Regions from separate parts of the Homo sapiens genome. Here regions 1, 2, 3 and 5 are each linked to region 4. The links come from fine-mapping of genetic effects on gene expression. A gene starts in region 4. Each other region holds a variant in brackets. All regions are shown on one strand. Distances are from middle to middle. Region 1 overlaps AGFG1 (ArfGAP with FG repeats 1). Region 2 has its middle 34 kb from the start of SCYGR1. Region 3 has its middle 25 kb from the start of SCYGR1. Region 4 holds the start of AGFG1 (ArfGAP with FG repeats 1). Region 5 has its middle 18 kb from the start of SCYGR1.

What was found. PIP is the estimated chance that this variant, and not a neighbour inherited with it, causes the effect.
Region 1: its variant is fine-mapped to the expression of AGFG1 in monocytes after interferon gamma (Fairfax 2014, PIP 0.95).
Region 2: its variant is fine-mapped to the expression of AGFG1 in fibroblasts (GTEx, PIP above 0.99).
Region 3: its variant is fine-mapped to the expression of AGFG1 in memory regulatory T cells (Schmiedel 2018, PIP 0.94).
Region 5: its variant is fine-mapped to the expression of AGFG1 in fibroblasts (GTEx, PIP 0.97).

Annotation. Positions count from the first base shown.
Region 1 is chr2:227,554,769-227,559,873 of GRCh38, forward strand. AGFG1 (ArfGAP with FG repeats 1) reads left to right here. Exons shown (of 13, transcript NM_004504.5): 13 at 1-5,105. Among named protein-coding and RNA genes, the nearest start is that of SCYGR2, 42 kb to the right of the region's middle. The variant GTTTA/G (reference allele first, on the strand shown) is at 2,824.
Region 2 is chr2:227,418,992-227,424,096 of GRCh38, forward strand. No RefSeq gene overlaps it. Among named protein-coding and RNA genes, the nearest start is that of SCYGR1, 34 kb to the left of the region's middle. The variant C/T (reference allele first, on the strand shown) is at 3,122.
Region 3 is chr2:227,410,297-227,415,401 of GRCh38, forward strand. No RefSeq gene overlaps it. Among named protein-coding and RNA genes, the nearest start is that of SCYGR1, 25 kb to the left of the region's middle. RefSeq lists an enhancer at 1,314-1,513. The variant C/T (reference allele first, on the strand shown) is at 2,418.
Region 4 is chr2:227,469,263-227,474,367 of GRCh38, forward strand. It overlaps AGFG1 (ArfGAP with FG repeats 1), which reads left to right and starts at 2,894. Exons shown (of 13, transcript NM_004504.5): 1 at 2,894-3,326. The coding sequence starts at 3,160. It overlaps MIR5703 (microRNA 5703), which reads left to right and starts at 2,870; the gene lies at 2,870-2,925. LOC124907994 (a long non-coding RNA gene) reads right to left here and starts at 2,837. Exons shown (of 2, transcript XR_007088114.1): 1 at 1,898-2,837; 2 at 1,526-1,727. RefSeq lists an enhancer at 1,807-2,770 and a silencer at 2,883-3,602.
Region 5 is chr2:227,403,060-227,408,164 of GRCh38, forward strand. No RefSeq gene overlaps it. Among named protein-coding and RNA genes, the nearest start is that of SCYGR1, 18 kb to the left of the region's middle. The variant G/A (reference allele first, on the strand shown) is at 2,067.

The DNA.
Region 1 (5,105 bases), 86 kb after region 4:
TGCAGTACTGTACATATTTTTCTTAGAAATTAGCTATTTGTGCATATCAGTATTTGTAACTTTAACACATTGTTATGTGAGAAATGTTACTGGGGAAATAGATCAGCCACTTTTAAGGTGCTGTCATATATCTTGGAATGAATGACCTAAAATCATTTTAACCATTGCTACTGGAAAGTAACAGAGTCAAAATTGGAAGGTTTTATTCATTCTTGAATTTTTCCTTTCTAAAGAGCTCTTCTATTTATACATGCCTAAATTCTTTTAAAATGTAGAGGGATACCTGTCTGCATAATAAAGCTGATCATGTTTTGCTACAGTTTGCAGGTGAAAAAAAATAAATATTATAAAATATGCTATTGTTTTTGTGTTCTTGCTGCAATGCCTTTACCAAAGTGGCCTTAAATATGAGTAGTGAATTGAGAACATCTTGAATTCTTAAAAGACTTCTTAGTGACTTTTTATAAAAAGGCCATGTAGAAAATTTATTAAAACTACTATGACTGCTACATTCAGGAATATGCCAGTGGTAAAGCATTTAAATGTAGCTTGTCAGATTTACCATAATCCTACTAATTTCTTTGCAGCTTATTAATTTTGTGAAATTTGTATATATGAAGAATTTGCATGTATGTGTATTTACAAATTTTTCTAAGTATCTTGAATTCTCAGACTGCAAAAGGCCTATTTTAACTATTGATTTTTTTTAAAAAAAATTGTCTTTGAATGTATTGGAAGTAGACATGCATTAACTGTGACATTATTGCACCTCAGTTTTTTTCTTTCTTTTTTTGGGCAAACTGATATTATCTATAGGATATTTGTTTATGTTTGTTTTTTGGGGGAAAGAAACTGGAACTCAGTGTTACCTTAAAGTTACGGAATACTTTGTTTTAAAGGAAAAGATAATAAGTTTAGTTATATCTTTTTGTTAATATTCAAATGAACTTGTTTAAGTATCTATGTACAGTAATGCCTCATTCATCTAGAGGTAATCTGGCAGTCTTGTGAAAACCGAACACAACTCAGAAACTTGGAATCGTTTTTTTTAAAAATGCCTCTGAGCAACCCATATAAGTCACAAAGTCTGTGTGTTAGAGCTTATGCATTTGTTTTTATGAGAGATTTTAATAAATTTAATTATTTGCTTGTCCAGACTATAGCATATTAGCTGTTTAGAAGGGATGGCTTGAAAGGAAGGAGACTGAAAAACACTCTGAGAGCATACACTGTCCAAGGCCATTAGTGTAAGGACCGCTACCCAGCCTAGAGGACATCACTATACTACATCATCTGATGATTATTCTTTATTATGCCTCTAGGTAATTAAGTAAAGGTGAAATTGCATACACAGATATGTAGTACATATTTTAAAAGTTTTATCTTAAATTGATTAAAACTTTTTAAAAAGCTTTGGTATTAAAAGAGGTAAACATCAGTTTCCTCAAACATTTTATTCATGTTGAATGCCTTTTTGCAATGATGACTGAGTTGTTATCATAGTATTTTAAAACCTGTATAGTGTTTTAGACTTGTTAAAACATTGCTGTCTAGTGTACATCTAGCTAAAAGTGTGGTTTATCTAAACCGTTTTAATAAGCAAGATGACTGGGAAATCTCTGCCCCTTTTCTGAGCAGTATGCCTCTTCTTTTAGAATTAAATGAATGCTGCACAGGTCCAGATGTGTGTTGATGTAGACTTGAAATGTCTCCACATTTTGGAGGACTTCCTCAGCCCTTTTCATTGAGGGAAAATATATTTGAATTTCTGTTTTAGATTGTATCGGGTCCCAGTTGATTCATGTGTACAAAGTTATGCTACCTAATTACAGACCATTACCCAAATATCCTACCAGGCTTTCCATCTGAATAGTAAATTAAACAGTTGTTATCAAAATGATTTTAAAGACTATTTCTTTTTCTGGGTAACTATTGAAGTTTGTAATTAAATGGGGGCTCTTACTGACTTTAAATTAGCGCTTATAAAATAAAAATGTTTAGTTCAAGAAGAGACCCAAGCTGGGTATGGTGGTGTGAGAGCCTGTGAGTCCTAGCTACCTGGAGGTGAGGTGGGAACATCACTTGAGCCCAGGAGTTGGAGGCTGCAGTGCGCTACGATCACACCACTGCACACCAGCCTGGGGATAGAGTGAGATCCCATCTCTAAAAAATGAAAAAAAGAAGAGAGGTAGCTTTAAAGTGGTTTTTCTCATGATATTCACTGTTTATTATTAAAGAAAATCAGCTTTCGTTAGACTTTTACATTTAGATTTATTCTAGTTTTATATAGACCATCAAAATTATGTTGAGTACTAAAAAGGAGAAAAAATCCTGGAAGGTAACAAGGCTGAAGACCTTCAAATTTCCTGGCTTACTGGTTTAGTCACATCATTTTTCCTGTTCAGGTATCTGCAGATATCCCTGTTCAGGAAAGATCTTTTTTCAGGATGGCAAACTTTTGACATAGTTTAAAGACATTTTTTCCCCATTTTTTGAAATAGAGAATATTTTATTATTTTTGTGAAAATAGAGTTTTGGTAATCACTTTCTTCCTCAAAATAAGTCCTTCTGTTAATTTGTAAAAGCACATTAGTGCTTTACCTGTGAAATTCCCCGCCCCCCTGCACACACACCCACTTTAGTACAGTTCCTGTCAATTGGCAACATGGAGAGGGTGACCTGGCTGCTGGTTTACCACTGTACCAACATCTCTGGAGCATTTTAGTTTCAGAACCTTAACACTCCCCAACAGCTTTGTTGATGTAGCTTGTATCTCTGAGAATTTATTGTATTAAAATTAATACTGAGATATTTTTAAAACAT[GTTTA/G]TTTATTTAAGTATAACAGTAATAAACTAATAACTTGCTAACATAAATACCATTTTTGATAAAAATAACTTTTCCAAAACAAAAACTAATGAGAACAGGAACATTGTTTTACATTTTATGCATTTAAATCTGGCTTAATAAAAGCAGTGAGATTTTCATGCTGCTTTTGCATTCCAACTTAAAAATTACACAGCATACACACGCTGGAAAACTCCACTGTGCACTTGTGAGATCAGGAGAATGAAAACTATGTAATATCTCAGTAGTACAATGAAAATAGTTTGACTTTTCACAGCCTTTCAAAGAAAGGGTTGTAGGGACCATTAAGGGTCTCCAGACTCTTTGAGAACCACTATACTTTAAATTTGTGTATTTCTAGAACAGTATTTACTTGCAGGGCAAACATAACTATTCCCTGGGTTTTTTTTGTTTGCTAGTGAGAACTGAAATTGCAGACTTTTTAACACTACTTCAAGGTAATAATAGCAGTGGTATTATGGGCTGTGTATGAGATAGTCATTTGTAAAACAATTTTCATATTTCATCTCTTACAATCCCTGCAGTGGACCTATACTTTTAGGATGAAAGAAGCAAAGCATAGAGAGGTTAAGCTAGTGGCAGCTTTTTGCTCTGGGGAACAGATTTGGATTAAATGCTATCACATTTATATATGAATGCATTCTTTCTTAATATTTTGAAATTCTGAACAAGTTAACGTTCTTGTCTTGTATATCTAAAAAAACTTTAATCACTTGAATTCCTTTCATAATTTGATGAAATCAGTACAGTTTATTCTTGGTTTTTTTTTTTAACTTTAGAAGTAAATTAATATGGTAACTAGTGGAGCGTGCTTTAGATTGAAGACTCATCTGAAGTATCACAGACTCCTATTTTGTAAAGCATTCCACCTTTATTGATACAGTTTGTGGCCTATACACTTTTAAAATTTATTTTTTAAAAGGTGATATTAAAATTTGTATTTAACCTGTTGTATTCATCCTCATTAGTTAAGTTTTTCTTTTTATGTTTTAAAACTTAGTGACATTAAACTTTTCACGTGGTTGTTTGTGAACAGATGAATATATAACCACGATGTAATCCAGTGTTGTGCTGCTGAATGTTTAACAACCATCTTTCATGAAAGAAAAAAGGCCCTGTTTTGTAGCATTTACTAATATTTATGGTATAAATACTGTCTTCATGGTGATTTTACCTGCCAATCTGATGTCATTAAATGCAGTTTGATGAAAGAGATAGCCAACCAGTGGCTTTCCCAAGCCTTGGCAAACCAGCTTCAGCACAGCAAAGGACATACAATTCCACAACTCATTAATTAAATGTATTGGTCATTTGATGATTATATCCAGTATTTGGAGAGCTTTTATATTGTTAATTCATTTAGCAAGCATTTGAACACTTGTTTATTTTTAGAGATATACTGGGCACTGAGGTATTTAATCTGCAAAGACCCAAGTATCGTGAACCTTGGTTTTAAAAAGTCCAATTATTGTGCTCTTATAGGGGTTGCACATTCAAGGCTTACACTGAATTCTGTCTGCAGTTCTGTTTTGTGTGACCAGCACAGTGTTTTAAAACGTTGCATTCTGAATCCATCTTTTTGAAATGGGGCATGTACTCTTAAGGTGGCCACTAGCTTACCATTCCCAATTTTTCTTAGTCTCAAACATTCACATGTTTTTCAAGGCCTTGGAGTTGGCAAATCCTGAATATATAGTGAAGGTAGGAAATAGCTCTTCTTATGCCACATCTTAGTCTGATTTTGAAGTCAGTTGTGTAAGTTTGGGCTGACAGTGGTATTTTCCAGTGAAGACTATCGCCAAGAATGCATATCATTCTGCTTATTTTATTCTAGTGGATAAAAATTCAACGTATATTTAAGTGTATTTTTGACATCTGTGCTTGTCCAACACAGGGCTGTAGGGACTGATGAAAAGAGAATGTTGTGATTTGAGCTTTTATAAAAAAAGATAAGTGATCCTAGATAAAATATTTTAGATGGTGATTAAAATGCCCATAGATTAATTTTTTAATCGGTTCTCTGAAATCTTGAGATGTTATCCAAGTTACAATTTAAGCAATGAGAGTAAAATTTGAATTCTAAATTCTCAGCATCTTCCCTCATTCTTGAGTGGAGAGACAGAGGAAGCAAACGCCAAGGAGCCTTCTAATTTTGACTATATGATCATTAACTAAAGGCAGCAAGGGATTGTAAACTAATCTTACATAGTCAATGTTTCATAGAATGCTTTGGTTACAA
Region 2 (5,105 bases), 50 kb before region 4:
AGGTCGGGAGTTCAAGACCAGCCTGGCCAACATGGTGAAATCCCGTCTCTACTAAAAATACAAAAATTAGCCGGGTGTGGTGGTGCACGTCTGTGATCCCAGCTACTCAGGAAGCTAAGGTAGGAGAATCGCTTGAAACTGGGAAGGCAGAGGTTGCAGTGAGCTGAGATCACAGCCACTGCACTCCAGCCTAGGCAACAGAGCGAGGCTCTGTCTCAAAAAAAAAATTGTATATATTTAAAAGTACATATTAAACCAAATATTTAATGTATTTTTATATTAAAGTGTTTGGTTTCACTTTGCTATCTGTTTATAAGTTCATCAACTTGTGTTTTATTTTACTGTCAAAATAGATATCTATAGAACCATAGTTTGCTTTTTGTTATTATTTTATTCATTTATTTATTTATTTCGAGATGGAATTTCACTCTTGTCGCCAAGGCTGGAGTGCAATGGTGCCATCTCAGCTCACTGCAACCTTTGCCTCCCCGGTTCAAGTGATTCTCCTGCCTCAGCCTCCTGAGTAGCTGGGATTACAGGCATGTGCCACCACACCGGGCTAATATATATCTTTTTTTTTTTTTAGTAGAGATGGGGTTTCACCATGTTGGCCAGGCTGGTATTTAACTCCTGACTTCAAATGATCTGCTCTCCTTGGCCTCCCAAAGTTCTGGGATTACAGGCATGAGCCACTACACCAGGCCAAGATCCATAGTTTGAATGGGCTTCCAGGATTGGGATAGATAGCAAAGGTTCAGCTTAGGCCTGTTCCATTTGTGACTATTGTCACAAATGTTAAATTTGGAGTCACCTGCCCTTGAACTCACCCTTGACCTGGCCAGAAAAATGGAAGCATGTCAATGGTCTGGGGAGGAAAGGACCTTATGTGAAATTAAAAGAATTGTCTGGTTAACCATGTTACACCTTGGGTCCAAATAACTTTGAGTATGGGCACATTTAAGGACAGAACCTAGAGATGAGAGAACTGCTTCCTAATGGATGGAGTGAGATGAGCCCTACTGGCCAGGGTCATCAGACAGCCCTAGTTACTGGCCTGGAGACAAGGACAGTGCTGAAAACTGTACTCCAGAGACATTCCTACTATAGCTGAGACACATCTGGGGCCTCCCCAAGACACCAGAAAAAAATGGAGCCCAGAAATGGAGGCTAAGGCCCTGCAGTAGTGCAGTAAAAGTTCAGCTTAGGCTGAAGGGGATAATGAGGTAGTGAAATACCGCATTAACAATGACTGTGACCTGAGTTGTGCCTGGGCCAGTCAATAAGCTGTATTTCTCAACTCCAACCTTGCCCCTGCCCCACCTTCTGTACTCTGCTTTGTGATTCGGGGGCTGGGCCTCTGCAAACCCCATTTTCGCTTTGGAGCTGGCTCCCTCTGAAGCTCTTCCCATCTTCCCATGGGGAGATGCAAGAGAGAGACCGCACAGCCGGAGGAGGAGGAAGCCCCTCTTCTTTCCTGACCACTTTCTGCTCCTGTGAATGGCACCCAGGCAATGCTTCATTAAGAAGTGAAATGAGCATTAACCATTTCATGCTCAGCAGTAGCACCAGTTCCTTCCCGAGTCCACCACTGAAGCCAGTCTGCAATATTTTCAATGCTTGTAGAACTGGTCCCCTCACAGCCCCTCGCAGACCTCAGCTGGAACGTACAGTAGCCCTCCTTAAGAATCTGGTGCTCAGCTCCACACGGCTCTTCCTCCAAACATCTAAGCTTTAATAGTTTGAGCCTCTTCCTTTCGCTCCCCAATTCCCACTGCTTCCTCTAGTTTCTACCTCCAGGGTAGTTTTGCGTTATCTTTTTGCCATTTATGTTACCTAGCGCATTTTATGTTATCAGCAAATTTATGCTTAGTTAACAATTAAATCCTCTCTATTCAAACAACTCATGCTTTTTTTTTTTTTTTGAGACGGAGTCTCTCTGTCACCCAGACTGGAGTGCAGTGGTGCTATCTTGGCTCACTGCAACCTCCACCTTCCAGGTTCAAGCTATTCTCCTGTCTCACCCTCCCGAGTAGCTGGGACTACAGGCGCCCACCATGTCTGGCTAATTTTTGCATATATTTATTTTTAGTAGAGACGGGTTTTCACCATGTTGGCCAGACTGGTCTCCAACTCCTGACCACAACTCATCTGCCCTCCTCCGCCTCCCAAAGTGCTGGGATTACAAGGATGAGCCACAGCGACGGGCCAACTGTTGCATTTTCTATCTCCTTATTGGACCGTGATTGACACATACCTAAAGTTTCCTCTGTTTATTCATTCAGGAAATACGTAATGAGTTCCCACTGTGTGCCAAGCACTGTACTGAGTGCCAGGTCACAGGGAGGAGGGAAAGACAATAACCAATAGAATAGAATCTCTCCACACACCTCCACTTACCAGAGGGAGAGATTTAAATTCTCAATCTGGGCTGGGCGCGGTGGCTTACACCTGTAATCCCAGCACTTTGGGAGGCCAAGGCGGGCAGATCACCTGAGGTCAGGAGTTCGAGACCAGCCTGGCCAACATGGCAAACCCCCGTCTCTACTAAAAATACAAAAATTAGCCGGGTTTGGTGGCGGTAGTGCCATTGTACTCCAGCCTGGTAGACAGAGCGAGACTCCATCTCAAAAATAAATAAATAAATAAATAAATAAATAAATAAATAAATAAATAAACAAACTAACTCTCAATCTGTAATATAAATGGTTAATGCTCATTTGGCGTTTTGTTTTGTTTTGTTTTAGATGGAGTTTTAATCTTGTTGACCAGGCTGGAGTGCAATGGTGAGATCTTGGCTCACTGCAACCTCCTCCTCCTGGCTTCAAGTGATTCTCCTGCTTCAGCCTCCCAAGTAGCTGGGATTACAAGCGCCCACCACCACGTCTAGCCAATTTTTGTGTTTTTAGTAGAGATGAGGTTTCACCATGTTGGCCAGGCTGGTCTCAAACTCCTGACCTCAGGTGATCTGCCCGCCTCAGCCTCCCAAAGTGCTGGGATTACAGGCGTGACCCACCGCACCCAGCCTCATTTTGCTTCTTAATGAACTTATAGTATTGAAGTAGCCAGTGCTTCCCATTCCATCATAAAACCCAGCGATGGATGCTCCTATGTTGGAGCCCCT[C/T]GCCAAGGTGAGACTCACACTAACCAAGAGTCAGTTGTGTTTGTCCCCAGTCCTGTGTATGACATTTTTATTTATATTTCTGATTGCATTATTCAATGAAATAGTATGTAAACCAATAAAATGTGAGTGATAAAAGGATGAGCATTATTTTTTATAAAAACTTAATTATAGGAAGGTTCCTATCAACAGTAATGCAAGTAGATACCAGGTGGCTGAGAAGGGCACTTCACCTATCTTGTATTCTGTCCCCAAGCCCATAACTCCAGTCTAATCTGGAAAAAATTTCAGATAAACCTATATTGGGAGACAGTCTATAGGATACCTGGCCAGGATGTCTCAAGACTATCAAGGTCATGAAAAACAAGGAAAGACTGAGAAACTGTCACAGACCAGAAGAGACTGGGCAGATATGACAACTACATGTGAGGAGAAACCTTGGATTGGATCCTGAGGCAGACAGATAACAATGACAAAGGTGGCAAAGGCTGGGCACGGTGGCTCATGCCTGTGGTCCCAGCACTTTGGGAGGCCGAGGCAGGCAGATCACCTGAGGTCAGGAGTGTGAGACCAGCCTGGTCAACATGATGAAACCCTATCTCTACTAAAAATACAAAAATTAGCTGAGCATGGTGGTGGGCACCTGTAATCCCAGCTACTCGGGAGGCTGAGGCAGAAGAATCGCTTGAACCAGGGAGGCGGAAGTTGCAGTGAGCCAAGATCACACCACTGCACTCCAGCCTGGCAACAGAGTGAGATTCCATCTCAGAAAAAGAGAAAAAACAAAAGAAAAAAAAAACGGTGGTAAAATACTAATGAAGTCTAGAGTTTAGTTAATGATAATGTGCCATTGTTGGTTTCTTAGTTTTGACGAATGTACCAGAGTAACGTAGGTGTTAATAATTGGGAGGATTAGGTGACGGGTATTCAGGGACTCTCTGTACTATCTTTGCAATTTATCTGTAAATCTAAAATTACTGCAAAATGAGATGTTTGTTTTTAAAAAACTAAATTACATGCCTCAGAAGATTTGATAATAATGGATTGCTTTTAAACAATGCTGTTAAATTAGGCATGGGCACGACCTAACTGTAAAGGATAAGAACAATTTTTGAAATTTTGCTTTACACATCTCCTTACGTTCATGCTCCACTTTAAAGAAAATGAAACCAGAAATTGTAGATGATGCTTTATGGCTATAGTTTATGCAGGAAAGATGATGCTGAATTCCAATCAACATATTCAGGATGATGGCCTAGGTTAAAACATAGGCAAAAAGAATGAGCATTTATTTATATTTTTACAAAAATAGTTCATATACATAGTATATATCGCTTGTTATGATTCCCTAATTTTGTCATCTAATTTTTAACCGACTTACCAACTACCAGTCTCAATTGCGTTAAATAAGATGGCTTCTACCAAAAACTAAAATCAGACAATCACGGATTGTGAAGGGCATTCTGAAAGAAACAGGCAGGATAGGGTAATAGAGAATGACAGGCAGGGGTGGGAGGGCTTCTTGGAGAGGTCAGGGAAACTCTGAGAATATGACATTTGCATTGAGGTCAGAATATAGCTTAGGGAATTTTGGTTGGCAGAGTGTAATGAAGGAGAAAGTCATATAAACGGATAAGTGCAGCAGAGGGTCATGAGATGGATGTGCTGACGGAGCAGCAGGACCAAGAGGCGGGTGCACATTTCTTGCTGCGGGTGTCAGAAGAGGCTTCATGGAAGAGGCTGCCACCCAGCTGTGCTTTGAAAGAGAAAAACATGTTTCCCAGGCAGATGCAGGAGGGAGAAGAGTGATCTCCGACAGTGGGGGAAATATTTAAAAAGCACTGAAGTATGAAATATTGGGGAACCATAAACAGTGTGATGCAGGGGAGTAACTGGTCAGATTCACATGTTTGAAAGGGCGGTTAGCAGCAGTCTAACCTTGCTACTTAGAGTGTGGTCCAAGGACTAACAGCATCAGCGTCACCTG
Region 3 (5,105 bases), 59 kb before region 4:
ACTTTTAGGCATCTGAAAGAAGTGTCTGATTTCCTTGCTAAGGGATTGGCCTCAGGAACAGATGCATACCAGTGTTGAAATTCTCCTCAGCCTCGTGACTGGCAGTGATTCTTGTGTATCTGCCCTCTGCCTGTGTTGGAGCTGCTAAATTGTAAGAATTTGTAAGTTGGTAAAATACTTCTAAAAACCCTCAGCTCCATAAATATTTTTAAATTTAAATTTAATTTTGTTTTAGAGATAGGGTCTTGCTATATTGCCCAGGCTGGTCTCAAACTCTTGGGCTCAAAGCATCCTCCCATGTCAGCCTCCAGAGTAGCTGGCACTACGGGCACATGCCTTGCTTTGCTCTTTAATTTTTTTTTTCTTTTTTTTTTGAGATGGTCTCTTGCTCTGTCACCCAGGCTGGAGTGCAGTGGCACAATCTCAGCTCACTGCAACCTCTGCTTCCCAGGCTCAAGCGATTCTCCTGCTTCAGCCTCCTGAATAGTTGGGATTACAGGCATGTGCCACCACACTTGGCTAATTTTTGTATTTTTAGTAGAGACGGGGTTTCACCACATTGGGCAGGCTGGTCTCGAACTCCTGACCTCAGGTGATCCACTCGCCTTGGCCTCCCAAAGTGCTGAGATTATAGGTGTGAGCCACCGTGCCTGGCCAGCTCTTTAAATCTTAACGTAGTAACACCGTTACTAATTTCTCAGCTGCTTTTCTGAGTTTAACAATTTCTGACTGAATGCTTTATTTATAGGTTGACAATTCTCAGTACCCCTAGTCAGCCAAATGTGTCTCTCTCCACAACAGAGACTCACCTTCTCGTGGCTGCAAGCTGTGCAGCTGAAGAGGGATTCTGGAGAAAGAAGGGGAATCCTTTTGTTTGGGTCTATTAATGCTACGCAATGTGCCTGGGTTCTTGGAGGGAGACATATCCCATTCTTCCTTATTCCCTCCCATTGACTATACAGGAGAAACTGTATGGAGCTTACTTCAGAAAAACTATTAAGTCCCAAAGATGTGAAGTGTTTTGAATTTTATTCAAGTCCAACCTTGCAGGGCAACAACTCAACACAGCCATTCCTGCTCTTTCAGGAGAAGCCACAAGTGTGGGAAGACAGGCAGCTAAGTCTAGGGCACAGACAAATTAGTCATACTGTCTGCTTAGATCCTGAGGGCCTGCGAAACCCTCAAGGTTTCCTGGTGTCATCTTAAGGTGCTAGTTATTCCATTCTGGCTGCCTTTTGATTCATTTGGTTTTCTGCCCACAGGCAAGCAGAGGCGAAACCAACCTGCCAACTCTTACCTCAAACCCATTGAGAGAGACCTGGGGATTTCCTAGGGTTTTATTTTTACCTATTGCTCCCCAAACAGAAGTTCCATTACACAGAAGCATTTCTTTTTTTCTTTTTCTTTTCTCTTTTTCTTTGAGACGGAGTCTTGCTCTGTCACCCAGGCTGTCATGCAGTGGCACCATCTTGGCTCACTGCAATATCTGCCTCCCGGGTTCAAGAGATTCTCAAGCCTCATCCTCTCGAGTAGCTGGGATTACAGGTGTGTGCCACCACATCCAGCTAATTTTGTATTTTTAGTAGAGACGGGGTTTTGCCATCTTGGCCAGTCTGGTCTCGAACTCCTGACTTCAAGTGATCTGCCCGCCTCAGCCTCCCAGAGTGCTGGGATTACAGGCATGAGCCACCGCGCCCGGCCACACAGAAGCATTTCTCAGTGCCTAATCTAGTTTGCATATCAACTATTATGGAATAAAGAAACCAACAAGACCTTGCATTGCACTCCCTGGGTGGGATGACATATGCCTATCAAGGCCAGAGCCTCCTGAAACCCATCTCTTATTTCTGTTGGCACTGCTCCCACCCAGACAGAAATGAGTTAGAGTGAGGCATTCTCCCTAGTAACCACGGGAAGTAGGATTTCTCCCTGCAGAGGAGCAAAGGAATAGAGGAATGAATATCTTTGACTCCTACTCCTGTTCACCTTATGGGAGTCTTCTCTGATCCCCACAGCTAAAACACCGTCACTTCTACCCCATTCATCTTTATGCTCTTATCTGGCTTTATCTTTCCTGTCTTTTCCCCCACCAACACTTACCTCCCCCCTGCCCTAGAATGTGAGCCCCCTGAGCGCAGGATCTGTCTGATTCATTTACTGCTGTATCCTCAGTGCCCGAAACAGTATCTGTCCCATTTCTGAGTGCACAAAAAAAAAATCTGTTAAACAAATAGGGGACCTCTACTATTGCCAGGCACTGTGTCAGACCCTGTGCATACACTATACATGTGACACAGGTAGGTGTTAGTGGCATCATTCTACAGATGAAGAACCCAGGGAGTAACAAAGGAGGTGACATAACTTCCTCAAGGTCACACACTTAGTAAATAGTTGAGCATTTACTGCCTCTAGAGGGT[C/T]TATCCTCTAGAACTTGATCCCTTTTGTCAAATGCAAGAGCTAAAGAATTGTCGAGTAGAGTGTGTTTCATTCTTGAAACCATCTCAGTTTTCTACCTAGGTAGAATTTAGGAAAACAGAAGGGATGGCAAATATATATATATATAAAAACAGAGGAAACCTTCTTGAGGGTTACAACTTAAACAAGCACAGCCCAATACAAAATACTCTGAACTAAAATCAAACAACAATTCTCAGTATCTCAGAGGGTTTGATTAGTTTACTTAAAGTTTTTCAATCATCCCATATGCATTTACTGAGGCCCTCGTATGTGCCAGGCTCTGGGCTAAGTGCTCCGATACTAAGAGAAAGGCGGTAGACTTAGCCCTGTGGAATTTACTGTCCACCTGAGAACAATGAACCCAAGAGGTGTAAGAGACCAGGATTTCTGAAGAATACAGAAGAAATACTCAGTGTGCTTGGAGAGCAAGTGAAAGAGGGTCTGGCATAGACTGTGGGGCGGGGAGGGCAGGTCAGGGAAGATTGGCCCGAGGAAATGGTTTTAGAAGGGAACTAAACTTACCCTGGAGATTATAGTTGTCAAAGAAAAGCAAATCATAAACAGCCAGGACACACAACACAGACGTTACAGAGACACTGACAAGAGGAAATGGGAAGGAGGCGATTAGATTCATGGGCAGGAGCTCAGAGGAGAGGTACGGGCTGGAACTATATATTTGGAAGTCATTGGCTTACAGAAGGTAATTGAAATTGTAGGTGTCGATGAGATCATCTTGGAAAAAATTACACAGCAAGAAAAGAAGGGAGTCCAGCCCTGAGCTTTAAGGAAGTCTAACACGTAGTGGCTGGGAAGGGGAGGAGTTGCCAGCCAAGATGCCCGGGAAGGAGCGGGCGAGAGAGGCAGGAGGGAATGTAGGAATTGTGGCCATGTGAAATCCAGTGGAGAAAAGCTCTCAAAGGAATCATGTGTGCAGAGCCAACACTGCTGAGGGGCCAGAGATAGGAGGACGCAGAGATGAACAGGTGACAATGAAGTCATAGGTGACCCTGGGGAGAGGTCCTTAGGTGGCATGATGTGAGCAAGAGTCTGATGACAGGCAGATGAGAAAGGGTGGGAAGGGAGGGAATGGAGATGGTATCACCCAGTGGTCTGCAAACCAGGACCCACACACCAAATCTGGCTGGAGGCCTATTTATTTATTTATGATGTATTTATTTATTTTGCAAGGGCCTGTTTTTGTAAAGGAGATTTCACTGGAACACAGCCATACCCATTCACTTACATACGTATTATGGGCTGAATTTTATCCTCCTCCTTGACACTTAATTTTTTAAATTGTATATATTTAAGGTATATAACATGATGTTTTGATATACATAAACATAGGAAAATGATTTCCTTTTTAAAAAATTTTAATCAGGCCAAAAGAGAGAGAAAAAAGAATAAATATTCCTATAGTGAAATGATTTCTACAGTGAAATGAACACATTCCCTCATCTCATATAGCTACCTTTTTGTGTGTGGTAGAAATACCTAACAACTGCTCACTTAGCAAATTTCCAGTATACAGTACATTATTATTATAATTATTATTATTCTTAGAGACAGGGTCTCACTCTGTTGCCCAGGCTGGAGTGCAGTGACAGTCACAGCTCACACTGCCGCTTCAAACTCCTGGCCTCAAGCGATCCTCCCACCTCAGTGTCCTGAGTAGCCAGGACTACAGTTTTGTGCCACCACACCTGGCTAATTTCTTTTTAAATTTATGTTATACCTTTTGTAGAGACGGGAATCTCACAATGTTGCCTAGGCTGGTCTCGAACTTCTGGCTTCAAGCAATCCTCCTGTCTCAGCCTCCCAAAGTGCTAGGATTATAGGTGTGAGCCACTGTGCCCGGCCACAATACAATATTATTATTAACTATAGTGTCCCTCCCAAACTAATATGCTGAAGTCCTAACTCCAGTGCCTTAGAATGTGACTGTATCTGGAGATAGAGATAGGGTCTTTAGAGAGGTGAATAAGTTAAAATGTGGTCATTAAGGTGGGCCCTAATCCTGATAAAGAGGGGGAGATTAGGACAGACAGACACAGAAGGCAGGCCACGTGAAGACACAGGGAGAAGATGGCCATCTGCAAGCCAAGGAGAGAGGCCTTAGGAGAAACCAACCTTACCAATATCTTGTTGTCGGACTTCCAGCGTCCAGAACTGTGAGGAAATAAATTTCTGTTGCTTAAGGCACCTAATCTGTGGTTCTTTGTTATGGCAGCCCTAGCAGCCCATTGGCTATTTTTGCACTACACAAGTTGCAGAGTTGAGTAGTTACAACAGAAGCTGTATGGTGAGCAAGGCCAAAAATATTCAGTAGCTGGCTCTCCACAGACATTGTTTGCCAAGGCTAGGCATGGTAGCTCACCTGTAATCCCAGCACTTTGGGAGGTCAAGGTTGGTGGATCTTTTGAGCTCAGGAGTTTGAGATCATCCTGGGCAACATGGCAAAACCCCATCTCTACAAAAAAATACCCACGACCCGCCCCCGCCAACCAAAAAAAAAAATTAGGCATGCTGGCATGCACCTGTAGTCCCAGCTACTTAGGAGACTAAGGCAGGAGGATCACTTGAAACTAGGAGGCTGAGACGGCAGTGAGCCATGATCGTGCCACTGCACTCCAGCCTGGGCTACAGAG
Region 4 (5,105 bases):
AAGGTGAAATGAAGCCAATACATTATTTTGAAAATTTGTGAATAAAGGAAAGGAATCAAATATTTATCCTGCCTTTCTGACATGTACTATACCAAATAAAATGGTAGATGAGGGGAAATTTTTTCTTTATAGAAAATTTGAGCTGATAAATGAAGGAATGGTAGAATTAGTTTTATTTATTTATTTATTTTTATTTTTTATTTTTTTGAGACAGAGTCTCATTCTGTCACCCAGGCTGGAGTGCAGTGGTGGGATCTCAGCTCACTGCAACCTCCACCTCCTGGGTTCAAGCAATTCTCCTGCCCCAGCCTCCCGAGTAGCTGGGATTACAGGTGCCTGCCACCATGCTCAGCTAATTTTTGTATTTTTAGTAGAGACGGGGTTTCGCCATGTTGGCCAGGCTGGTCTCGAACTCCTGACCTTAGATGATCCTCCTGCCCCAGCCTCCCAAAGTTGCTGGGATTACAGGCGTGAGTCACCGCACCCAGCCAGAATGGCAGAATTAGAATATCAGTATTTTCTAATCATTAATGAATTAATGAATCTAGACATTAATCATCAATGGTTACCAACATCATGAAAAAGATATCCTCTCCTCAATTATGTCCCTCTTGATGGAAGAACACAATGAAATGAATGCCTGCCCCGCAAAAATACTGAACTGGATACTAGTGAACTAGATCTAACTACCAATTTTTAGGAAATAGAACAGAGGGACATGTTAAATGATACAGATTATGAGAAACTCTACAGAATAAAGTGCCCAATTACTAAAACAAATGAATTATAATTAAAAAAAAAGAGATGGTGGAGAGACCCAAAGAAACCTTATGAGACATATTACCCAGTTGCAAGGAGTGGGTTCAAACAAACTGTAAAAATCTCATTAAAATATTGATAATTGCCAACTTAAACACTAGTGCGATATTTGATGATCTTTAGGAGTTATTAACTTTTTTTTTTTTGAGGCGGAGTCTTGCTCTATTGCCCAGGTTGGAGTGCAGTGGCACAATCTTGGCTCACTGCCACCTCTGCCTCCCAGGTTCAAGTGATTCTCCTGCCTCAGCTTCCCAAGTAGCTGGGACTACAAGTGCATGCCACCATGCCTGGCTAATTTTCATATTTTTAGTAGAGACCCGGTTTCGCCATGTAGGCCAGGCTGGTCCTGAACTCCTGACCTCAGGTAATCCACCTGCCTTGGCCTCCCACAGTGCTGGGATTACAGGTGTGCGCCATCGTGCCCAGCCTATTGTTAACTTTTTAGATATGCTAACGGTATCATGGCTAAGTTTGAAAGAGATAAAGTTTTTATTTTTTAGGGATACAAATGGAACTATGTACCATTTAGATGAATGGTACGAAACCTAGAATTTGCTTTAAAATAATAGGAGAGGGGATGGAGGGTTGAGGTATTTATAAAGCAAGATTAGCCATGGGCTTAATCATTGCTGAAAGTGGTCCATGGGCTCATGGTAGTTTGATATTTTCCATAATAGAAAAGTTTAAAAACATTCATTGGCCAATCTATCTGTCCATTTCTTTTAATATTAAAAACATTAATTATTATTAGTAGTATTATATTAATATGAAGTCTCACTTTGTTGATTCACCCAATCCCTTTCATGAGAGATGTGGAGGTTGGTCTTGGCTGTTAGGAAACGTAGATTCTAATCCATTCAACAGCCCAGTGATTTGAGAACTTCAGCTCTCTGGGTCTCCCTGTACTCCTTTGGAAAACGAGAGACGAAGTTGATTGTTGCAGTGGGGATTTGGGTCCTGCAGTCTGGCTGTCTGGGTTGGAATTGAGCTTCGCCATAGGTACCCTTGGGTAAATTTACTTAATCCCTCAGGGTTTCATCTTCCTGTTTTGTAAAATGTAAATAACAATAACGCTCACCTCGAAGGGTTGTTGTGAAGATTACATGAACGATTTCATGTATTCATTCCGTCAACATTGAACACCTAGTCTCCAGCTCTGCGAGGGGAATGGGGTGGAGTGGCACAGAAAATACGGGGGCCAGGCTGTTTAGCGCCTAAAGGGAGAGTCCAGATCACCCATGGTAAACACGAAATAAGATGCAGTATTTCAAATAGCTAGAACTGAGACGAAAATACAACGCAGCAATTTGATGGAGAGCAACTTCGAGAAAGGTGAGCTGCAACATTAACTCGGCTGATCTGGGACAGTCTGGCGGGGGAGGTGACATCTGAGCCCCACCTGACTTAGAGGATGTCAGCTATGGATGATCCGGGTTTCCACACGCAGCAGTTCTCAAGCCAGGTGACTGCACCGCCCTAAAGTTCCCTCCACTTTTGGCAATGTCTGGGGATTTTTGGTTGCCAGCAATGGGAATTGGGGGGTTTGTTCTTGTATCTAGTGGGTATAGGCTAGGAACGCCGCCCAGTATCCTACAGTGCACAGGACACCCCAAGCCCCCCCAAATTAGCTGGCCCAAAGATAAAGAGAGAAGAGCAAGGGCAAAGGTCCTGCAGGAGTCAGAAAGGAGCTTGCTGTGTTCAGAAAACTCAAAATCCAGTGTGGCTGAGTGAGGACGACGAAGAATGAGGTAGACTGGGCTAGACTATGGAGCACTTTTTACGGCACGGTGAGGAATTTGGAATTATACTCAAAGCAGTGGAAAGCCCTTGAAGAGTTTTAAACAGAAGGGGAAGGTAACCCATGTGAAACGCTTTGCATATATAAGCGCTCAATAAATACTGTCTATTATTAATATTATTATCACCATTGTGTCTACCCTACTTGGCTCCAGACCCGGCCCATGCCTCAGCGAGGCCGCAGTGACTCCTCCTGGCCAGCAGAGGGCGCCAGCGGACACTTGGCTACCGGCCGCCCAGGGCGGGCCTCCTCTTGCCGTCCCCTTCCTCGTCTTTTCCCCTCAGGAGAAGTCGGGAAGGTGGCGGCGGCGGCGGCGGTTGTCCCGGCTGTGCCGGTTGGTGTGGCCCGTCAGCCCGCGTACCACAGCGCCCGGGCCGCGTCGAGCCCAGTACAGCCAAGCCGCTGCGGCCGGGTCCGGCGCGGGCGGCGCGCGCAGACGGAGGGCGGCGGCCGCGGCCAGGGCGGCCCGTGGGACCGCGGGCCCCCGGCGCAGCGCTGCCCGGCTCCCGGCCCTGCCGGCCTCCTCCCTTGGCGCCGCGGCCATGGCGGCCAGCGCGAAGCGGAAGCAGGAGGAGAAGCACCTGAAGATGCTGCGGGACATGACCGGCCTCCCGCACAACCGAAAGTGCTTCGACTGCGACCAGCGCGGCCCCACCTACGTTAACATGACGGTCGGCTCCTTCGTGTGTACCTCCTGCTCCGGCAGCCTGTGAGTGCGGGGCGGCCGGGCGGGTGTCGGGCCCTTCCCGGGAGGTGGGGGAGCGGGCGGCGGGACCGGGACCCTTCCGGGGCTGGGAAAGAGCCGGGTGCCGTGGGAGGCGGTCGGGGGCGGCCGTTGGGCGCCGGCTGGCGGGCGCGGCGTGGGAGGCTGCGGGCTGGATGCGCAGGGCCCGGGCAGCCGGGCTGGGGATGCGTTTTCGGTTTTGCCGGGCGAGGGTTTACGTTCTGGGCAGCCTTCGTGGGTGGGACGTGGGCGGGGTTGGGGTCAGGGAGGGGGCGACCGGGGCGAGCGTCCCTGGTCTCCGTCGAGCCTGCGGCCGCCGCCCTCGCTCTCCAGCTACCCGGGGCGCCGGGCTGTGGGGGGTGGGGGAAGACGCTAGGAGGCCGGGGGGGAGGTCCATGCGGGTCCTTTGTGTGCCCCGCCTCTCAGCGGCCCGGGAGCCGCGGTGCGGAGCGAGGCACCTGCTGGGCGCTCCTGCTGGGGGTCGGGGAGAAGCTGGGGTGGGAGGGAGGGACGCCTGCCTCGCCCGTGCCTTTTTTCTGGGTCGAGAGTACCTACGTAACTGGGAGGAAGCAGGCACTTAGGAATAGTAGCAGGATGAAAGCATCTTGATGGCAGATGTGAATCCCCTGGGAAAAGTTCGAAAGGATTAATTGCGGGAGGGGGAGGCAGAGGAGCAGATTTGAAGCTGTGGGATTTTAGTTTTATGGTCCGAAGAGAGTGTTGAGGAGTTGGGGGAAAGTTTTAATGGCAATAAGGTACCCACTAGGAGCTGTGTGATTCTAAATATGATGGAGTTATCTGTGAGATTTATCTGTATCTCGCTATCAATACCCGAGTGCCCTGGCTGTACACAGAAATGAGGAGAGCTAGCAAGTCACCATGATTTCAGAAAGACACTACCGTCCTGAGTTACTGGGATGATTTGTGTTTGTTGTTCTTTGCTTCATTAAGCTTTATTTTGATAAAGATTTTTATTGCCGTGCAATTTCATTCGGAAAATTTGCAGGTGGTTTTGGAATTGATAAAATGCTTTTATATTATTATCTTGTATTTAAAGTTACTAACAACGTGGCAGTTACTAAGTATTTTTAAAACCTTTGCTTGTAAGATTAATACAAAGCACATAATACTTTATGTGGGAAAATTGATTTCTTAAAACTTAGAAAATGCAGAACATGTCTAGTATGTACTATTTGCTTTTTAAAGTTGGGCAAAGAGGCATTATTAGTATTACATGAGTGTTATTTCTTCAGCAGACATTTTTTTTGGTGCCTATTAGGTTGTGTAAGGCCCTGGGGTGTGCCAGTAAATATAGCAAAGTCTTGTTCTCTTGGTTCTTACAGTCCAGTGGGGATGCAAAAGTAAGAAAAATGTCTTGGGCAAGTACTATGCTGAACATGAAAATTGTTTGATAGGAGAGTGCTCATGGTTACTTTTAGGCTGTGTGGCCAGGGAGACACTCTGAGAAGTTGCCAGTTAATAATATTCTCGAATTACTACAGAATCACAGAGCTAGGTGATATCAAGGAGGTAGCCTGGTTCATGCATTTCATTTACAGAAAAAGGAGTTAAGCTAGAAAGTTGTTACTTACGTTGGACAATATTGGTTCCAAAATGAAGCCAATAGAACAATTGTAATTGTATTTGATTTTTATTACATGGTTAAGATGTATGTCCTGCTTTTACTAAACACAGGTCCTTTAATCCATGTAAAGTATTTGATTTGGAAAAAATACATATATTTACACTTCCGGATTTCTGACA
Region 5 (5,105 bases), 66 kb before region 4:
TATATTTTTAAAAGGTTCAGTCAGGTTGAATTGGAAGTGCCTGTGAGTCATCTACAGAATTGGAAGTACCTGTGAGTCATCTACATGGAGATGTCAAATAGGCTGTTGGAAGGTTGGCCCTGGGACCCAGAAAACGAACAAGGAGGAGGAGCCTCTTCTGGAGTCACAAGAGGTGAGCCAGAGTAGTGGGAGGAAACCCAGGAAGGGGGTGGAGGGCAGGTCAGTTTGGACTGGATTTAGTTTTGGTGTTGTGACAGGATCCAGACTAGAGTGGAAGCAAGTGACGGCCGGTTATGTTTAGACTTCTCTATCCACCCAAGAAGAACCCATTCTCATGCCCCAGACAAAGGGAAGTGTCTTCGGAATCACTCGGAAACGCCAATCACACTGATCCAATTGGGTGCTTCACAATGTAGGAACTAGCCTGGAGAGACAACTCAGTGAGATTTTATGGGTTTTTTGTTTGTTTGTTTGTTTTTTTGATAAGGAGTCTCGCTCTGTCGCCCAGGCTGGTGTGCAGTGGCGCAATCTCGGCTCACTGCAAGCTCCGCCTCCCGGGTTCACGCCATTCTCCTGCCTCAGCCTCCCGAGCAGCTGGGACTACAGGCGCCCGCCACCACGCCCGGCTAATTTTTTGTATTTTTAGTAGAGATGGGGTTTCACCGTGTTAGCCAGGATGGTCTTGATCTCCTGACCTGGTGATCTGCCCGCCTCGGCCTCCCAAAGTGCTGGAATTACAGGCGTGAGTCACCGCACCTGGCCTAGATTTTATGTTTTTAATCTAATCTCTTTTACAATCCAAAACCAAGAAACCAAGAGGGCCCTGACCTTTACCCTTAGCCTCAATTTAATGGGAAATCAGAAAAAAAATGTATGAAAATAATTTAGGTCAGAGCAAATCATATTCCTCCTATGCTACAGTTAGACAAAGATGAACACTGCTGCGATCAAAGAAAGACCTTAGAGGCAAGGGTCAGATTTATTTCCTGCTGCTGGACCGAGTCTTCTTTGGTGTGTGATATTGGAATAAGAGAAGAAAAAAGAGGGCCGGAGCCGGGCGCAGTGGCTCATGCCTATAATCCTAGCACTTTGGGAGGCCAAGGCGGGCGGATCACGAGGTCAGGAGATCAAGACCATCCTGGCTAACACAGTGAAACCCCGTCTCTACTAAAAATACAAAAAATTAGCCGGGCGTGGTGGTGGGAGCCTGTAGTCCCAGCTACTCGGGCGGGTGAGGCAGGAGAACGGTGTGAACCAGGGAGGCGGAGCCTGCAGTGAGCCGAGATTGCGCCACCACACTCCAGCCTGGGCGGCAGAGCCAGACTCCGTCTCAGAAAAAAAAAAAAAAAAAAAAAGAGGACCGGGCCCAATGGCTCACGCCTGTAATCCCAACAGTTTGGGAGGCTGAGGTGGGAATATCCCTTGAGTCCAGAAGTTTGAGACCAGCCTAGGAAGACCACTAGGCCCTGTCTACAAAAAAAAAAAAAAAACAAAAAAAAAAACTAGAAGAAAAAAAGGAAATAAAAAGAGAGGCTTCTTTTAGCAGAGATGACAGAGTCAGACATAAAAAGCATGAAGGGATGTCAGAAATGTGATGCTGCACCAAATGTCCCCCTTACTTGCTGATCACTAATGTGGTCTAGAGGTTTGCCAGTGGAGCTTTGCTCTTTTGAGGTAAGAGATTATGCCCCATTAAAAACAGGATGCACCTAGAAGAACAGAGGGTGGAGACGCACACAAAAGTCCTTAGGGAGAGCTCTACCACTAATGCACTGGGGACTCCCCTTAAGGGGAGATAGGGAAGTACAAGTCTCACTTACTTCTTGAGAAATGGCCAAAATGGGGTTTTAAAGGCATACTCTCAGCATTGGCACTCTTTAGGCAGGAAGATATTGGTCAGGGCTGCTTGGTAAGGATGTTCAGGTTGTGCACTCTACAGATGCACATTTATCACAGCCAGGGCCTCCTGCAGAGGCCCTGATAGCAGTTTTCGGAAGGTAAGGTCCACCTGTATGAGAGATAGAGGCATAAAATGTACGTAGATGAAGGGAGTCCCTTCCTACTGG[G/A]CAAAGTATGTCTTTATCTATACTACCTAACCCAGAACAATACATAACTAAGTGTTCAAAGGACGATTTTTATAGTGTCAATGTGAAAGTATCTTTTATTCTAGTCTCTTTGCTGTAAAAACCAGTATAAGGCTGGGCATGGTGGCTCATGCCTGAAATCCCAGCACTTTGGGAGGCCAAGGCGGGCGGATCATGAGGTCAGGAGATCAAGACCATCCTGGCCAACATGGTGAAACCCCGTCTCTACAAACAATACAAAAATTAGCCGAGTGTGGTGGCGCACGCCTGTAGTCCCAGCTACTAGGGAGGCTGAGGCAGGAGAATTGCTTGAACCCTGGAGGCAGAGGCTGCAGTGAGCCGAGATTGCGCCACTGGCCTCCAGCCTGGGTGACAGAGCAAGACTCCATTTCAAAACAAACAAACAAATAACAACAACAACAAAAAAAACAGCATAATAGAGGCTTGGGCCACCAGTCTCATCCAGGCCACACTTGGGTCAGTGACTGTGGGAGCTTCAGATTCAGGAGTTTGGTGGACTGTGCCAGAAACACGCCTTGCACCTGCTTACAGGGATGGAGGAGCGAGGACTGAGGGGGGCCAGAGATCCAAAGTTCTTGTATCTCCATAAGAAGGTGTAGGAGCAAGCCGAGCAGTCTGAAATTGTCATTAAGAACAGAAAACCTGCAGATGGGCATATTTACACACATGGCTTATGTGGGTGTGGGTGTGTGGATGGGCAACATCAAAGAGGATATGAATGGTGATTCAAAAGTCAATAGGTCAAATATGAAAATGCTAGGAGGACATCTTCATGTATCTACTGTATAGTCCAACTTTCGGTTTATGGAAAATGTCCAGCTCTTTTAGAAGGTAAACATTTTCTGACTGTGAGCTCTTGAATATGAATTTTATGGTACCTTATACATTTTTTAACTTTCAAAGCTCTGGGTTGGGTAGTTACCAGTACCATCTTCACAAATTCTGGATTCTTCTGGATGTTCTTGACTATTCTGGGAAAATTGGTGCGTTTGTTCTCCCTCCGCCTTGTACCGAGGTCTGCAGGCTTAAGGGATGTTAACAAGGCTTCAATTTGCTGTGTGCATTAGCAGGTGCTGGAAACTACGTTGCCAAATGTGTCGTAGACACAAGAGGGCGATGTGTGCTCAAATGTCAACCTCACCGAGGAAAAGGAATTCATCCTTCAGGAATTTTTGGCTGAATTCCCAGACCTAAAAAAGATTAACAAAGTGTGTTTGGGAGGGGCAAAATTCACTGTGAAACCTAATCAAAGAGGCAGGATGTGATGTCAGAGTGTGGAGACAGCCTGGCAGGAGCTTGGAGGGGATTCTTATCCTTGAGTTCAGAACTGGGCAGTACTCTAGGCTAATGATCGTTATAATCAAGACTTGTCCTCTGTCTGGATATTCAGAAAAGACAGACTTCAAGGCTGCAGAGAATCAGTGGCTGTCTTGGTCTCTGATTACAAAAACTTTATTCTGAGAAAGCCCCTCATTCATTGGAGGAAAACTGGCTGTGCACTTGTTACATGCCAGGCATGAGTCTTGTAGGGGCTAAGAATTCAGCCTTGAGTAAGACAGCCGAGGCCACTGCCCTCTGGAAGCATCAGTGACCCTTGGCACGTACTCCCATCTATTTGTTTCTTTTCTCTCTGAGCCAGTCCAAACCAGCAGTATCTACATCATCTTTTCTTGTTCTGAAAGAGAATGCAAGTCACACATTTATGGCTGTGGGCCACATTTTTTTAGAGATGCCATCTGGTTCCAGTTTTTCTGACTGTTTGTGGAGAGTGGTGATTCCAACAATCTTCTACCAAATGTAAGGGGGTGATAAAAGTGTTCAGTGTTTGCCACAGAGATATCTCTAGCTTGGCCTGATCTCAGTGCACTGCTTTTTGGGTTTACTCAACAAATTGAACAATGCTCAGCCCCTCTTCCATGGAACCTTCCCAATCTCTTTAACCAGGGTTACACTGCGACTCCTCTAAGTCTCTGTACATCATAGCACTTTTGTGGGAGACCACTGCTACTTCAAATCTCTGCCAATAGCACCATGTTTCCTTTCGTTGCTAGCTTTTTAGAATTCTAAAGCCTACTTGGCCATTAGATTTTTTTTATTTTTTTTTTTTTGAGACAGGGTCTCACTCTGTTGCCCAGGCTGGAGAGCGGTGGTGCAGTCACAGCTCACTGCAGCCTCAACCTCTTGGGCTCAAGTGATCCTTCCACCTCAGTCCCCCAAGTAGCTGGGACTACAGGTGCTCACAACCACACGCAACTAATCTTTGTATTTTTTGTAGAGACAGGATTTCGTTATGTTGCCCGGGCTGGTCTCAAATTCCTGAGCTCAAGAGATCCTCCCATTTTGGCCTCCCAAAGTGCTGGGATTACAGGCATGAGCCATTGTGCCCGGACTAGCTATTTTTTAAATTGGAGTTTGAGGAAGGAGGAACAGAAAGGCTGCATCTGCTTAGTAAATGACTCCCCGCTGCCAACACACATACCCAGCAGATGGCAACACCCATGAAAATCCTTTCATCCTGTTGTGAATGGTGGATTCCCAAACTCTACAGGACCCTGCACTAGTCAGCATCTGCTCTTCCCTCTTGAGTCAGGGCAGCCTGCAAAAGTCTGGTGTGTATCATAGGCATCTTGGGGCTCACCTTCTACAGAAGGTCAGAGGGCACAGCAAAAATAGCTTTCTTGCTGTGACCTAATACATAAACCCTGGCACACTTCCGCCTGTCAGATGGGAGCACGCCCCTGTCCTCGGGCTGTTTTTCGCTGTCGCAACAGGCTGTTCTGCCGTTAATCCTTTCCTGTAATTCCCGCCGCCTCGCTCGATCTTGCAATTCTCTTGCCCAGTGGCCTTTACAGGGGGTCATTACTGGGACACGGGGAACCAATGTGCGGTAACAAATGCAAGCTGACAGCAACACGTTCCTCGCCAAAAGTGGGACTCTTGGGTTTTGTGTGTGTCAACTCAGAAGAAACGAGAAAAAGACCCCACCATGTGTTGGATGAG